Linked DNA regions of Homo sapiens: region 2 is reported to be linked to region 1. Evidence: microRNA targets listed by miRTarBase, many of them from high-throughput screens and not tested one by one. Region 1 holds a microRNA gene; the other region holds the end of a gene's coding sequence.
The links. The annotated mature microRNA hsa-miR-6720-5p reads UUCCAGCCCUGGUAGGCGCCGCG and lies in region 1 at 1,603-1,625, shown strand. An mRNA with a match to its seed (bases 2 to 7 or 8) in the 3' UTR can be bound and repressed. Matches are read on the target gene's strand: a 7mer-m8 pairs with bases 2 to 8, a 7mer-A1 pairs with bases 2 to 7 and ends in A, and an 8mer does both.

Region 2: miRTarBase lists TNFRSF13C as a target of hsa-miR-6720-5p. Seed matches in the 3' UTR shown: 7mer-m8 at 678-684, 7mer-m8 at 982-988, 7mer-m8 at 1,142-1,148 and 7mer-m8 at 1,809-1,815.

The regions. Positions count from the first base shown.
Region 1 is chr6:1,387,834-1,391,983 of GRCh38, reverse strand. It overlaps MIR6720 (microRNA 6720), which reads left to right and starts at 1,573; the gene lies at 1,573-1,670. FOXF2 (forkhead box F2) reads right to left here and starts at 2,408. Exons shown (of 2, transcript NM_001452.2): 1 at 866-2,408. The coding sequence starts at 2,036. FOXF2-DT (FOXF2 divergent transcript) reads left to right here and starts at 2,523. Exons shown (of 3, transcript NR_187218.1): 1 at 2,523-2,965. RefSeq lists an enhancer at 361-1,226.
Region 2 is chr22:41,921,603-41,925,602 of GRCh38, reverse strand. TNFRSF13C (TNF receptor superfamily member 13C) reads left to right here. Exons shown (of 3, transcript NM_052945.4): 3 at 49-3,571. The coding sequence ends at 236. MIR378I (microRNA 378i) reads left to right here and starts at 2,306; the gene lies at 2,306-2,381. RefSeq lists enhancers at 1-68, 69-570, 3,284-3,333 and a silencer at 3,804-3,853.

The DNA.
Region 1 (4,150 bases):
TTCTTCACATTAACCTGGTCAAATATTCAAATTCCCTCTTCCATCCCTACCGTCCCCTCCCACCTTTCACCGCCTTCAGCAAGTCAATAATTTTTCATAATCTGCAACCAGAACAATGTAAACCAGCCACACTACAAGTGGCATCCACAGGGCAGGCGCATTTCTCAGGGGAGTCCTAGCAGGGTCCTTCAGGTCCTGCCACCCAGGACCTGTATCATCAATGTGGGTCCATTGTTGGGCGGGGGGGGAGGCAGGGAAGGGGAGGAGTCTCCAACAGTTTGGTGACCCCCTCCACTGGCAAATGTCCCTTTAGTGAAAGATCCTGGGATCCAGCTCTGTCCCTCCCACCCCCTCCTCTTAACACTTGCCCAGCTGCAAACATCTCGCTGCAGACACCCCAACATACAGAACATATCTGATTCTGACATTTACTTCGGGACAGAAGTACAGCAAAATGAACGCAAGGAAAAAAAGGGACAAAAGGAACTAGACACAGCTTCCTGACCAAGTTCCCCAAAGGCCAGATGCCTTCTCTCCAAGCTAAGTGAGACTCTGAACGGGAGACCTGCAGTCTCCTGCACAGGGATCCCCAAAGAGCCCAGGAAGGCAGGGGACTTTACACCACGCTCACAGCAGCCAGACAATTCTGAAGCTTCGGCTGCTGGCCAGGGATACTGGGAGGACAGTAAGACCCTGATCCCTGCTCCCACGAATAAGATGCCGGCTTTCCCCAGCATCTGCTTTTCCCAGTGCCCTCAGACCTCCTAGCTTCGGGGTCCCTGTTTGTGGGAGTGGCAGTGGCCGCCAGCCCTGGAGGCCTAGAAGCGGTGCGCCCAGCTGGCTGGGCTGGAGCGTGCTGCGTTACCTGAGAGGTCCTCGCGAGCGTTCTGGTGCAAGTAGCTCTGCTCCAGCGAGTAGGAGGACATGCTGGAGTGCAGGCCTGCCGAGGCGGCGGGGTTGCTGCTGGGCGTCAGGGCAGGCGGCTGCTTGAGGTAAGGCGAGGCGCCAGGCGAGCTCCAGTGCGCCGCAGGGCTCGTGTAGGGCGAGTGGCATTCGATGGCGCTCGCCATGGCCGGGGACGAGGGTACCGGGCTGCTGCTGCTGTCCGGCCCGTAGTCGCCGCCGCCGCCGCCCCCGGCCGCACCGACGCCCCCGGGTCCCGCGGGCACCGGGCAGCTGGCCATGTAGGTGGAACCCGGGTTGGGCGACATGTGCGGGACGTGGTGGTGGTGGTGGTGGTGAGGGTGCGCGTGGCTGGGGGCGCCCGCGCCGGCGTCGTAGCCCGCGGGCATCATGTCGAGGCCGCCGTAGCCGCCCTGGCTGTGGCAGCCGAGCGGCGCCGACGGGGGCGCCTGGAAGTCGAAGCCCTGGGGCAGCAGCGACGCCCCGAAGCCCAAGCCGCTCACCACGCGGTGGTACATGGGCTTGAGCGCCTGGCACTTCCGCCTGAAGCCGCGCGGCCGGCGGCGGAACGAGCCCTCCTCGAACATGAACTCGCTGGCCGGGTCGATGGTCCAGTAGTGGCCCTTGCCGGGCCGCCCGAGGCCCTTAGGCAGCTTGATGAAGCACTCGTTGAGCGAGAGATTGTGGCGCACCGAGTTCTTCCAGCCCTGGTAGGCGCCGCGGAAGAAGGGGAAGCGCGCCTGCAGGAACTGGTAGATCTCGCTGAGCGTCAGGCGCTTGCTGGGCGAGCTCTGGATGGCCATGACGATGAGCGCGATGTACGAGTAGGGCGGCTTCTCGGGCCGCCGCAGCCCCGAGCTCGCCTTCTTGGCGCCCCCGCTCCCGGCGCCCGCGCCGCCGCCGCCCGCGCTCTTGCAGGCAGCCGAGGGGGCGCTGGCCGAATTGGAGGAGGACGAGGACGAGGCGCAGGAGGCGGAGGACGACGACGAGGAGGAGGAGGTGGTCTCCGGGGCGGCGGCGGCGGCGGCGGCGGCGGCGGGCGGCGGGCTCATCAGGGCGGCCTGGAGCGCGCCGGGGACCGGGCTGCACGCGCGGCGGAGCGGGGCCGGCGGCGGCCCGCCCTCGGTGGTCATCTGGGACCCGGGAGCGAGGCCGGGCCGCGAGGGCGGGCCCCGGGCGGGAAGCGGAGGCGCCGGAGCGGGGTCGGCCCAGAAGCCCTGCGAGCGCCCTAGCCCGCCGCCCGGGCTGCAGCCGTGGCCACTCCGGGCCAGCGCTTCGGCGTCGCCTCCCTCAGCTCCTCTGGGGCTTCTGGCGGCGGCGGCGGCGGCGGGCGGGAGGCAACGCCCGGCGCATCCCTCCCCGAGCCGCGGGCCCTGCCTTGCGCAACGGCCTCCCAGGCCGCGGGGCCGAGCGGCCGGCGCCGGGCGACTGCGCCCGCGAGTGGGACCGCGGCCTGGACCCCGGGGACGAGCCCGACGTCTCCCTTCAGGAGCGCTCCTCGCTCTGTCTCTCGGACTTCCTCCCTCCCTCGCCCTCCCCGGCCGCCCTCCTCGCTCCCTCCCTCCCTCCCTCCCCCCCCACCCCGCCCTGCCCCCTCCTCGCTCCGCGCCGCCGCGCTCACTCCTCCCCCTCCCGACCTGGCGGCCGCCTCCCTCTCTTATCTCGCTCCCCGCTCTCCAGGGTCTCCTCGCTCTTCATTCCTCTCGCGGCCTCCTCCCCTTTCCCTCACTCACCCTCTTTCCAATTGAGGGATCACAGACTCACTCCGGTTCTGCCAGGGGGACGACCCCCACCCCTCGCAAAACTCGACCACCTCTGACTTCATGAAATATTCTTTCTGTTTGCCCCCCGCAGCAAGCCCCGCGTCCCATCCCAGGACCCAGCCCCGCCCCTCCGCGCCCCCTTCCTCCTCCTGGCCCGCCGGGCCGAGTGGTGCTGCTGCGGGTGCGGCTGCTCGGAGCCTCCCTGGCCGCCCTCCCCAGGGCCGATACTGACTCCATCTGTCAACTTCGTTTAGACTTTGCCGCCCTCAGCCACACGCCGGGGTGCCAGACGCCCAAAGGTAACGTGCCAATCCTCTCTCTTTCTGGCAGGGCCTGCAGGCTCCCCGACAATTGTTAGGGCGACTGGGGGCCGCCGCAGGGTTGCGGGCCGCTGGCGATCGTGGACGTTTTCGGAACTTTGAGCAGAGGGATTTACACTGAGAAACCTAGGCCAAGTTTCAAAGACTCTGGAAACCTGGATCTCATGGGACTTAGGGTTGCATTTGCTTCCACTTCTTCCCCCCACCCCCGCACCCCAGTTAGTGTTCTGTAAGAAAAAAGTGCAAAAGAAAAAGGAAGGAAGGAAGAAAAGAAAGAAAGAGAAAGAAAAAGAAAGACCCTGAGATAAGCGAGATGGCTATATTTATAGTCAGTCCTGAAGGGGTGTGCAGCTGTCACTAGGTTTACATCCTCCGTCTTAACATTGCCCACCCAAAACTGTGCCAGGTCTCAGCTAACTCCTGTCCGAGAACACTTCTCCCCAGTTGTGGCTAATTCCTCCCTAAGTAAGAGTCAGGCTCTGAGAGAGATGTGCCCTCGGGAGCAATCACTTCCAATGAGACCCGACAGTTAGTTATTGGATTACACGTGCAGGGAAATGTAGTCCGACCAGGGATAGGAGCTGGGAGAGGGAGGAGGAGAGCAGGAGGCCGGAGCTGGCGGGGCCTCCCAAGGGCTGAAGGGGGAGGCCCAGAAAGAAGGTGCTGCAGACCAGCGGACCAAACAGGAGGTAGAGCTGGGCACCCCGCTGCGTCTAGGCTGAAAGGACCGAGGTGCACGGGTGTGCCTGCTGGGGAGCCTGGGGAGTTGCAGGAGGCAGGAGAAAGGGAGGTTGTGCAGTAATCAGGAGGAAGACACCAGGCAAAGAGCCTTCACAGCCGCACAGCCTAGGCAGGCCCCCTGGGGCGGCAGGAGCCCTGTGTGCCCCTGGAGTGCCGGGGGACTGCTCCTGGCTGAGTGTGCTGGTGGGGCTGTAGATGCAGAGAGGGCGGGTGGGGAGGGGAGGGGTATGTGGGAGGGGGGTGGGCCGGGGCTGGCCCCAGACAGTGACCTGAGGTTGAGTGGAAGCAGGCTTTTTCCATCAAACCCTGCCTGGATACCACACACAGAGACCGAGTGTCAGTTTACTGCCCTGAGCCGGCTCCTTCTCCCTAAGCTCCACAGTAATTAGACAAAGAAAACCTAAATTAGCTGAACAGGCGTCG
Region 2 (4,000 bases), not on the chromosome of region 1:
AGGGAAGGCTGTGACTGAGTACGGAGCCTCTACCCCCTCTGCCTGCAGCCCCAGAGCCCCTGGACAAGGTCATCATTCTGTCTCCGGGAATCTCTGATGCCACAGCTCCTGCCTGGCCTCCTCCTGGGGAAGACCCAGGAACCACCCCACCTGGCCACAGTGTCCCTGTGCCAGCCACAGAGCTGGGCTCCACTGAACTGGTGACCACCAAGACGGCCGGCCCTGAGCAACAATAGCAGGGAGCCGGCAGGAGGTGGCCCCTGCCCTCCCTCTGGACCCCCAGCCAGGGGCTTGGAAATCAAATTCAGCTCTTCACTCCAGCATGCACATGCCCTCTTTCTGGGACCAGGCTAACTCTGCAGAAGCACAGACACTACAGACCACAGCATTCAGCCCCCATGGAGTTTGGTGTGCTTGCCTTTGGCTTCAGACCTCACCATCTTTGACAGCCCTTGAAGGTGGTAGCCCAGCTCCTGTTCCTGTGCCTTCAAAAGGCTGGGGCACTATGAGTAAAAGACCGCTTTTAAAATGGGGAAGGCACCATTAAGCCAAAATGAATCTGAAAAAAGACCAAGTGGGAGGATGCCTAATTTGTAGTTGGGTGGTTTTTTGTGTTTGTTTGATTTTTTTTTTTTTTTTTTTTTTTTTTTTTTGAGACGAGTCTTGCTCTGTCGCCAGGCTGGAGTACAGTGGCGCGATCTCGCCTCACTGTAACCTCCGACTCCTTGGTTCAAGTGATTCTCCTGCCTCAGCCTCCCGAATAGCTGGGATTACAGGCACGCACCACCACAGCCAGCTAATTTTTGTATTTTTAGTAGAGACGGGATTTCACCATGTTGGCCAGGATGGTCTCGATCTCCTGACCTCGTGATCCGCCCTGCTCGGCCTCCCAAAGTGCTGGGATTACAGGCATGAGCCACCATGCCCGGCCTTGTTTTGTGTTTTGGTTTTTTTTGAGACAGGGTCTTGCTGTATCACGCAGGCTGGAGTGCAACGATGGGTCCCCAGCTAATTGCAGCCTGGGCTCAAGCAATCTTTCTGCTTCAGCCTCCTGAGTAGGTGGGACTACAGGTGCTCCACCTTGCCCAGCTAATTTTTTTTTTTTTTTTTTTTTTGAGACAGAGTCTCGCTCTGTCGCCTAGGCTGGAGTGCAGTGACGCAATTTCGGCTCACTTCAAGCTCCGCCTCCTGGGTTCACACCATTCTCCTGCCTGAGCCTCCTGAGTAGCTGGGACTATAGGCGCCCGCCATCACGCCCGGCTAATTTTTTTTGTATTTTTAGTAGAGACGGGGTGTCACCGTATTAGCCAGGATGGTCTCGATCTCCTGACCTCGTGATCCGCCCGCCTCAGCCTCCCAAAGTGCTAGGATTACAGGCGTGAGCCACCGTGGCTGGCCTTTTTTTTTTTTTAAAGACAGGGTCTCGGTATGTTGCCCAGGCCAGTCTCAAACTCCTGGCCTCAGGCAGTCCTCCCCGAAGGGCTGGGATTATAGGCAGGAGGCGCCGGGCCTGGCCTCTATTTCTTTAATACCTGCCCTCAGAGCCGTCCTGCTTTTAAACTGATGCAAATGGCAGCAGTGAATAATCAATTCATGGGTTCGCTTGCTTTGGGATTTAGTACAAGATTATTTTAAGAAATAACAAAGGAGAAAAGATTGAGCTGGATTTTGCTGATTCTCAGGTATCTGTACCCCAGGGTCAACCCTGAGATTGGCCCAATCTGCCAGAACCTAAGATGCCATTTTGACCCCAGTGGCAGCTTCCAGAGCCACAAGCCTGCATTTGGGAGGAGGTGCGCAGCCTCCAGGGCTGGACTCCAAACTCGAGCTGAAGGAACATGCTGGCAGGTAGCTCTCTCAGGGTCCACCTGGGGTTCCAGCTGCTCCAAGACACAGCACATTTAGCCATAAACATGGAAGGGCTGGGACCTACAGGAGGCTCCTTTGTGTAGAGGCCAGGGCAGGCGTGTGACCTTGAACCAGGTGGACATGAGGTCCCTTGAACTCCCTTCTCTCTCTGGCTTGTTCCCCTGAAGCACTGGCCCCCCAGTGCTGGGCTTATTTGGCCATCCTGTGCCAGCCCCCTGGTCACCCACCGTCACAGTGGAAGCTGCTCCCTCCTCTTACAATGGTGTTCCTTGCTCTGGGGTCTGGGGACAAGACCATCTCTTTCCACTCCTGGACGACACTGTGCACTCAGTCAGCCGCCTCCTACCTGCCCTCCTGCACAGGGTCAGAACCTCCTGACCTGGACTTCGCCCTGGGCAGCTTCCTTGGAACTTGTTGCAGCTTAGCATCTTTGGAAGGGAGCACTGGACTAGGAGTCAGAAGGTGGAGTTCTGGGTGCTGTTTTCCCACTCTTGGGCCCTGGGCATGTTCTGTTCTGTGCATCAGATGTTTTCTGCCTGCCTCCCCCTGAGCTGCCACCAGAGCCACCTGTAGACCCCTGCTTCTCCTGCCCCTCCTGTCCCTTGCCAGGCCTCTGGACTCAGTGCTTCCTGTCCCAAGGACCTGTTGTGTGCCCAGCTTGGAAGACAGTGGCCACTCACATCCAGGTCTCTGCCTGGCTATTTGCTCCATGAACCCATCTCAGATGCCCCTGCCCCCAGGGAGCCAGGTGACAGGGTGAGGTCAAGTGACAAGCAGTAGGTGTGGGAGAGGTTTGGTGGGGTCAGGCCCACATGGGCCCAGCCATCCACTCCCCTTCCATCTGGAGTTGGGGGAGTCTGAGCTGCTCCTGGCCACCCCATCTGCCCCACCCCATCTTTTCCTGGCCACCCCAGCTCCCACCCCATCTTCTCCTGGCCACCCCATCTCCCACCCCATCTTCTCTTGACACCCCATCTCCCACCCCATCTTCTCCTGGCCACCCCATCTCCCACCCCATCTTCTCCTGGCCACCCCATCTTCTCCTGGCCACCCCATCTCCCCCACCCCATCTTCTCCTGGACACCCCCATCTCCCACCCCATCTTTTGCTACAGCCAGGGTTAGCTCAGCAGGTGAAAACCCCGAGGGTGGGTGAAACCCCTCTGGGGCTCAGACATGCAAACCTTGGGCATCTCTCTGTCCCAGCTGGCCCCGCCAGCCGGTAGGAAGTTTCCCCTGAGTTCTCAGTTTTTTCTTCTGAAAAATGAGGGGTTGTATGCAAGGTTCTCCTCCTGGCCTGTGGTCCCCAGAGAAGGGCAGGAAGGAACCTTAGATAATTCTCATATGCATTTAACAGACGAGGAAACTGAGACCCAGAGCCGTCACATCAATACCTCATTTGATCTTCATAAGAGCACCTGGAGGAGGGGGGTGGGGTGTTTGTGTTTGTTTAAATTTTTTTTTGTGAAAAAAATGAAGATAGGCATTTTGTAGACAATCTGGAAGTTCTGGACCGGAATCCATGATGTAGTCAGGGAAGAAATGACCCGTGTCCAGTAACCCCAGGCCTCGAGTGTGTGGTGTATTTTTCTACATAATTGTAATCATTCTATACATACAAATTCATGTCTTGACCATCATATTAATATTTGGTAAGTTTCTCTCTCTTTAGAGACTCCACAATAAAGTTTTCAACATGGTAAGGTTTTCCACCTGGGCATTTGGATACTTTGGTTTTTGCTGTTGTGGCCAAGACGGCACAGGCCACATGCGCCTGTGCAGGAGTCTCTGTTTCCCAGCACAGTTGTTGCGCCAAAGGCCTTGACTTTTTTTTTTTTTTTTTGAGATGGAGTTTCACTCTTGTTGCCCAGGCTGGAGTGCAATGGTGCAATCTCGGCTCACCGTAGGCTCCTCCTCCCAGGTTCAAGCGATTCTCCTGCCTCAGCCTCCCGAGTAGCTGGGATTACAGGCATGCACTACCACACTCAGCTAATTTTGTACTTTTAGTAGAGATGAGGTTTCTCCATGTTGGCCAGGCTGGTCTCAAACTCCCGACCTCAGGTGATCTGCCCGCCTTGGCCTCCCAAAGTGCTGGGATTACAGGCATGAGCCACCGCGCCCAGCCAGCCTTG